Homo sapiens: one gene and its partner. The protein of the gene in region 1 purifies or fractionates together with the protein of each later gene. This does not show direct contact. Each region holds a gene or a part of one and is shown on either strand. Other genes may lie near its edges. The genes, in order: PAN3 and MARF1.

Region 1 (3,816 bases):
GATCTCGGCTCACCGCAACCTCTGCCTCCCGGGTTCAAGAGATTCTCCTGCCTCAGACTCCCTAGTAGCTGGGATTACAGGCAGGCACCACCACGCTCAGCTAATATTGTAGTTTTAGTAGACACGGGGTTTCTCCATGTTGGTCAGGCTGGTCTCAAACTCCTGATCTCAGGTGATCCGCCTGCCTCGGCCTCCTAGGGATTACTGGCGGGAGCCACCGCACCTGGCCGAGGATTTTCTAATTAACACACAATAGGTAGAAGGGCTGAGACTTGAAAGAGGACAGGATGTAAGCAGATGAAGATGGGAGGGGAAGGTAAGTACCCTTAAGGTGGAGGAAAAAATATTAGCAGTGGCTCAAAGGTGGGACATCTTAGGAAAATAACTGAGATATAGGGACTCGAGAGGACAGGCAGTTAATGCTGAAAAGGTATTTTAAAATTAATACTTTGTCACTTGTTAGTAAAAGTTGTCTGATTAAATAGTTGATTTATGTATTTAGATTCTGTGGTGTTTGCTTTAGCTTGTCTGGCTGAAGCCTAAGGCTCCTCTTTTCTGTGATAGGCTTCTTGGTATCTCTCAGTAATTCCTTATGGATGGAGATTTCTTCATAAGGAATCACAACCTAGGTATTACTGAGAGATACCAAGGAGTGGGAAATAATGTTGCTCAGGAATCAGGAAAAAAGGTTGTGTTGGTAATTGTATGGCTTTTTTGAGTTTTTACACTTATTGTTCATTTTTTAGACTGCTTTCTACCTTTTACTGTATTCTCATTCAGTGTGTTTTGAGACAGTATTGATCCGTTTATTTTATTTTGAAGAGATGATGTCTTGCTGTGTTGTCCAGGCTGGTTTCGAACTCCTGGGCTCTAGCAATCTCCTGCCTTGACTTCTCAAAGTACTGGGATTATAGGTGTGAGCTACCACATCTGGCCTTCATTGGTTAATTATGTGTGTGAGGCAGTTAAAATAGATGGCAATTTTTTTTTTTTTTTTTTTGAGACAGGGACCACAGGCACTGGCTACCAAGCACCTCTAATTATTTTGTATTTTTGGTAGAGATGAGGTTTCCCCATGTTGCCCAGGCCGGTCTCAAACTTCTGGGCTCAAAGCGATCTGCCTACCCTGTGAGCCACCATATATACCATAATTTAGTGTTTTTAATTTCTATGTTTGTGGGTTTTGATTGAATCATTTGACAACAAAAGAAACAAAAGATTTAATATAGAAGTACAAATTTCTGGTTTCCCTTTAAGGATGTCTCTTACCTGTGTTGGAATTAGAGCTGTTGATAGAGCATAATTCTCTCCATTTTGACTCATTCCCTAACTGGATGACTTTTATATCTAGGCATTTGAGGTTTTGACTCTAACTTTAGCACTTCACATTTGCAGAATTGTTTTTGTTTTGTTGGTGTTTCAGATAGTGTTAAAACCTTGGAGGTGGGTGCATGAGAAAACTTTATCTTTATTTTGCAGCCATTGGAAAACTGAAGCACAAAGGCTTTTTCTTAATACACTTAGTTGCAATGATGTTTCAACCTTATAAGGAAACTGCAATTTGATTTTTTGTTTTTGTTTTTGTTTTTGTTTTTTTTGAGGAGGGGGTTGGGAGTTCTTGCTGTGTTGTCTAGGTTGGACTCCAACTCCTGGGCTCAAGTGATCCTAGCACCTCAGCCTCCTGAGTAGCTGGGACTACAGGTATGCCGTACCATGTAGCTTACGTAACATTTCGTATTTCTGTTAGTCTTGGGATTTTTCTAAGGCTTAAGAGTGATTTGATTTGTATTCAACTGCATTATCGATTCTTGACATTTAATGATGTAATTCTAATATTTTCAACTGGCTAGATTTTCAAAATGGCTTTAATCTTCAAAGTGTACAATTTTTAACAGGTAAAATATGCCAATATTTGTATTTTATGTACATTATTTGAAACCCAGTAGTTTTAATTTACCAAAATACACTTTTCAATTCTCCTAATGTAGTTACTAGTGAATAAGACATGTTTCAGATAGAATCCTGGCTCTTTGACTAGCTTTGTGACTGAACGAATTTTTAACCTTTAAGCCTCAGTTTTTCTCATCTGGAAAATGGAGATGTTATGAAAATTGCATGGCATTGCCTGCACATATTGAGGTTTCAGTCTTAGTTATTGCTATTATTAAATATTAATAATCTATAGTTAACCTCTGTATTTCCTTCTTCAAATTTTTGAGGGCATACATTGAAGACTAGTAAAATAGCTACAGATTATTGAATTGTGATTGTCCAAATGGAGGAGAGCAGTGCCATGGATAACTTGAAGTTCAAATGTTAGCTTTGGAATATGTAATGTGTAGCGTGTGGCAAAGCTGTTTTTGTTTAAGCCAAGACTAGCCTTTTCATCCCACAAACCTATACTAAGTGACAGAGAAGTGAGTACTGGCGATTTGCTGTTAGGATAGCTGGCATAAGTTTAAACATTTTTATTGGAATAATATACTTAGTATATCATGAAGGCTTTATAATACTGTTCATTTCACTCATTTAATATCCTGCTTCCAAGGTGGTAAGCTCTGATTAAGGTGATAGGAACAACAACAGCAACAAAAAAACATAATTCAGCCCTAATGGAGTTTACATTCTAGTGGGGCTATAAATATCTATAAGGTAATACTTGGTTTCGATAAGTTTTTTTGTTTTTTTTTTTTTTTTTTTTTTTGATATGGAGTCTCGCTCTGTCTCCCAGGCTGGAGTGCAGTGGCGCAGTCTCGGCTCACTGCGAGCTCCGCCTCCTGGGTTCACGCCATTCCTGCCTCAGCCTCCTGAGTAGCTGGGACTACAGGCGCCCGCCACCACGCCCAGATAATTTTTTTGTATTTTTAGTAGAGACGGGGTTTCACCGTGTTAGCCAGGATGGTCTCAATCTCCTGACCTCATGATCCACCTGCCTCGGCCTCCCAAAGTGCTGGGATTACAGGCGTGAGCCACTGGGCCCGGCCGGTTTCGATAAGTTTTATGAGGAAAACTCGAGGGATAACGTAACTCCAGGTGAGATTGAGTTAACAAATAAAGCACTTTTTCCTGTAAAAGTGCATTTGATGAGATCGGGCGTGTTCAGAGTGGTATGATCATAGACTGAAAGTGCATTTGAAATGACCCTTTAAGAAGATAAATGATTATCAAAAGCAAACCAAAACATCATCTTTTTTTTTTTTTTTTTTTTTCCTCAGAGCCTCACTCTGTAGCCCAGGATGGAGTGCACTGGCGCCATCTTGGCTCACTGCAACCTCTGCTGCCCAGGTTCAAGCGGTTCTCCTGCCTCAGCTCCCAAGTAGCTGGGATTACAGGAGCCTGCCACCGCGACTGGCTAATTCTCGTATTTTTAGTAGAGATGGGGTTTCACCATCTTGGCCAGGCTGGTCTTGAACTCCTGACCTCGTGATCCACCTGCCTCAGCCTCCGAAAGCGCTGGGACTACAGGCGTGAGCCACCGCGCCTGGCCCAATATCATCCTTTTATATGCCATTTTGAGGAATTTTTCCCCCAATTTTAAATGAACTTTTTATTTTGAGATAATTATAGAATCACCCGAAATTGTAAGATACAATACGGATATCTCATGTACTCTTCTTTTATAAAGGATAGTAACATCTTTTGTAGCTGTAGTACAGTATCATGGCCAGTATTGATTGCTGTAGTCTACTTGTTTACATTTCCACGGTCTTATTTGCACTTGCGTGTGTGTGTGTATGTGTGTACATATTACAGATCGTGCCTAACTTAATGGTTTGGCTTTCAATTTTTTGACTTTTTTTTGACAATTTTTTGAGA
Region 2 (3,816 bases), on another chromosome or scaffold:
ACTCTAGAAAGGTGTTGGTTAATGGGAGAGTCAAGACCCCCAAGCAGGCAACTAGTCAGGGCGGTCAGGGCAGTGGGCGCGCTGAGGAGGGCCGTGTCAGGGCCCACTTCCCAAGCCTGGGGAGCCTGTTGCAAAACCTTCAAGGATGTGCCTGAGGGAAGCACGTGACAAGGAGGGGAGAGAGCATTCTGGGCAAAGGGGATGATGACATGAGCAGATGCAGGGTTGTGACAAGTGGCATGGAGTGTCGAGAGGCTAAGAGGGAGCTGAGAGCTCGGTTAGGGAGGGCGTGGCTCCTCCAGGTAAGGAGGGAGGACTGTGTTGGAGAGAGCTGGAGCCCAGGTTTGCATTTGAAAAGCACCCCAGTGGTGCTGTCCATGGTAGAGCCGAGAGAAGCAGGCATGGAGAAGGGAACTGGGCTAGGATCCTGGCCACTGCAGAGGTCTGGGTCAGTGTTAGATGGAGGGATTGAGCCAGAGTAAAAATAGTAGAATAGAGGAAGTAGGAAGGACCCAGGCAAAGCTTGCCTGGGAGCTGAGATCAGTGACCTGGCGACGGTGTGCACATGTAGGGGGCCTGGGAGCCTAGCTCCACTACTACCACTCTGCTTGGCTGAGATGGAGAGCGGCACCATCAGGGAGAGGACTTTAAGATGCTGATAATGAACTTAGTTTAAAGGGTCTGAGAGATTGCTCTTAATTCTTTTAGGTGGTTGTTCAGTTTCTGCAAAAAAATGGCAAAGAGCTCTCATGTGAGAACTACCTTAATTTATATGCCAAAGCTGGTGTTTGGAAGACAGTCTTTTTAAGAATTATAAAGGATATTTCTGAAACTGTGTCTCATGATTTTTGAACTACTCTGCTTTTTATAGGGGTATGTTTCTGTCAGCTTCTGTTGCTTTAAAAGCTAAGGAGAGAGTAGAGAAACATGCTTCTTGGCAGTAACTCAGCTCCTAAATTCTAGCCTAAGGCAGGCTCCGTAGGTCACACTCTTCCTGAATGTTAGGGCTTCTGTCCCCTCCTTTTCCGCTGCTTAACCAGTAGTATGTCTTGTGTGCAGGTGGTCTGGATAAAAGGACATGGTCATAAGAGAATTGTAGTGTTAAAAAATGACATGAAAAGTAAGTAAGCACCCATCCCCTCCCCCCTTAAAAAATCACGGTTCTCTCACTGACATTTCTCTCTGACGGGTGCTCTTTGTCCTGTAGGTCGTTTGAGTTCACTCAGTCTCTCCCCTGCCAATCATGAAAACCAGCCCTCGGAGGGCGAGCGCATCCTGGAGGTGCCCGAATCGCACACAGCCTCGGAACTCAAGCTTGGAGCTGACGGCAGTGGTAAGAGAGGAAAAGCAGAGACATAGGAGCTTGTGAAATTCTAGGAGAAACGGCTTTGGGGTCGGGGAGAGCGAGGGAAAGGACTCCAGCAAGTCATCCAATCTGCTGAAGTTACATAGCCACACATTTTTCAAAGCAGTTTTGGTATTTAGTTAGTAACAGGATAAAATTGACCTTTATCTGTTAGCATTGCATGGTTGACTGGTTAAAGTCCCTGAAGGATGTTGGCACCCCCATAATGATCATCTTACCCCAGTTCAGATGTTGAAGAAAAAAATTATTCCGACACTTATTATAATGGATATTCATGACACTTGCAACAGGGGAGAGAGAGCCAACTCCCAATACATAGCCTAGGAGCAGAGTGAGGGCTCAGTGGGTGGAAAATTACTAAGAGGATTCTTGCTATAGGCATGCAGGCCAGCCAAGGATCTAGACATCAGTGGTTGGGAATAAGGAATTCGATCAGCTGTGAAGGGTGAGGGGATTCTCACTAAACTGACTCAAGCTAAGACTCTAGAGCGAGCCGGCAAGTTCAGCAACAGACATGGAAGGCCAAGGTCAGGCCTGATCCGGAAGAGGGCTCAGGGTGCCTGACTCATGGCTGGTCAAGGCGTCTTTGTCACAGGACAGCCCTAGGCAGGATTTGATATACTAATGCATTAATATTACCCAAAATTACACTGAGTCACATAGATTTCAGATAGATCCACCTCTGTAGTAGATAGAGGCCAATTCTTGGAATGTTATAGCAGTTCTAACTTTTCTGAAGGACTTTTGAATTCATCGTTATAGGTGAGAATTTTGTCTTCATAACATGCGGCGAGATAGCACGTTACCGTCCCCTGTGCCCTTAGGATAACTGAGTTACACAGCATTTGACGTTTTATGAAGCGCCCTCCTGGGAATCATCTGCCGAAGCTGCCCCACAGCCTTCAGCAGTGCTGACCTCCGTTGTGCAGCGGAGGCTCGGAAATCTCAGGCAGTCACGTATTACAGCTCACCCAGAGTCAGCAGCTAGGAAGCCACGGAACCAGGCCCAGGGCTTCGGATTCTGAGCTTCCACTTGCTGTTAACTACGTACACCCCGTCTCAGGCTGTCCCTTCTCTTTGGAAGCTGACTGCAGGACCCTTTTCTCTGGTTGGGTCTTTTGAGGGGCCAGTGTTCCTAAGAACACGGATCTTCAGAAGAACTAGCTTATTAAGGCGTTCCATTACCAGGATCTTCCTGTTAGTGGGTTTTGGGTTTTTGTTTTTTTTTTTTTTTTTTTTTAATACCTTAAATACTTCTTGACTCTCTTATCTTTAAGGCTTAGAAGGAAAACTTCAGGTGTGAGCCCAGGGTGTGTGCTGGGGGTGGGCGTGGAGGTCCTGTGGTGTCACGGCCCTCCTTGTTTGCCCAGGGCCCAGTCACACAGAGCAGGAGCTTCTCCGCCTGACCGACGACTCCCCCGTCGACCTCCTGTGTGCGCCTGTCCCCTCGTGCCTGCCGTCCCCTCAGCTGAGACCAGACCCCGTTATCCTCCAATCTGCTGATCTCATTCAGTTTGAGGAGCGCCCTCAAGAGCCTTCTGGTGGGTGACTCCATGTTGTCATGGGGATTTTCTTCGGGGTTTAAAACAAAACCACGATGAGATACTGATATAGTAAATGACGGAGGTGGGAAGGGACTACCCCTTTTCAGGTGGAAAACACTGTGCTGATTATTCGACCTTCTTTCCCCACCTGGGTTCCTGCAGAATGGGATGCACAGCCTGAGGTTGCCTGGCGAGCATCAGGCAAGGGCGATTTGGCAGCTCTGGAGGGCTGGTGGCTCGGGGCTGTGGGCGAGTCCACAGGGGTGGGTGGGGCCTCCTGGGCTTCTGCTCTCCCAGACTTTGTGAAGGTTCAGCTGCTCTCAGGCACACCTGTCACCAGATGTACACGTCACCCATGGTGGGGGTCCAGAGGGCCCAAGGGCTTTATAAAGGGGTGAATGGAGGGAGGTGTCTGTGGCTGGAGCCCCGGACTCTGCCCAGTGATATAACAGACAGGAAGCTGAGCACACTGAGTCCCAGCCTAGTGCAGGCATTGGCACTGACCCTGTGCTCAGGGCTGACAGACACCATCACATTTAACTCTTACCACGGCTCCAGGTGAGAGCCGTGGAATAAAGGCAGCTGCTTTATTCCACAGGCTGCGTGACTAAGGCACAGCTGGTGCCGTCACTAGAGAGGCAGTGGCCCCGGGCTGCTGGGCTAGCAAGGGCAGAGCCGGCATTGGAACCCAAGCCCTCTTGTCCTGCGGTGTCTCCTGGCCTCTGGAGAGGATGGCCCATCTGCCCTGTACAGATCCCTCCCTGCTCTTCATCTGTTGGAACCCAACTCCTCCCCACTGCTGGTGCTGCTTTCCAGGTCACCAGGAACAACCCGTGGACTCCTGGCTTGGCTTTTACCATCTTGGTTGTTCTTGGCAGCGTTCAGCACTGTTGCCCAGGAAAAGAA

Evidence for each region.
Region 2: the proteins of PAN3 (region 1) and MARF1 purify together in Homo sapiens (affinity purification with mass spectrometry, with the first as the bait; one large-scale study listed by BioGRID). This does not show direct contact.

Annotation. Positions count from the first base shown.
Region 1 is NC_000013.11:28,141,531-28,145,346, forward strand, and holds part of PAN3 (PAN2-PAN3 deadenylation complex subunit PAN3), read left to right. Parts: intron 1-3,816. UniProt on the Homo sapiens protein: Regulatory subunit of the poly(A)-nuclease (PAN) deadenylation complex, one of two cytoplasmic mRNA deadenylases involved in general and miRNA-mediated mRNA turnover.
Region 2 is NC_000016.10:15,597,945-15,601,760, reverse strand, and holds part of MARF1 (meiosis regulator and mRNA stability factor 1), read left to right. Parts: intron 1-1,059; coding exon 1,060-1,120; intron 1,121-1,207; coding exon 1,208-1,333; intron 1,334-2,736; coding exon 2,737-2,907; intron 2,908-3,816.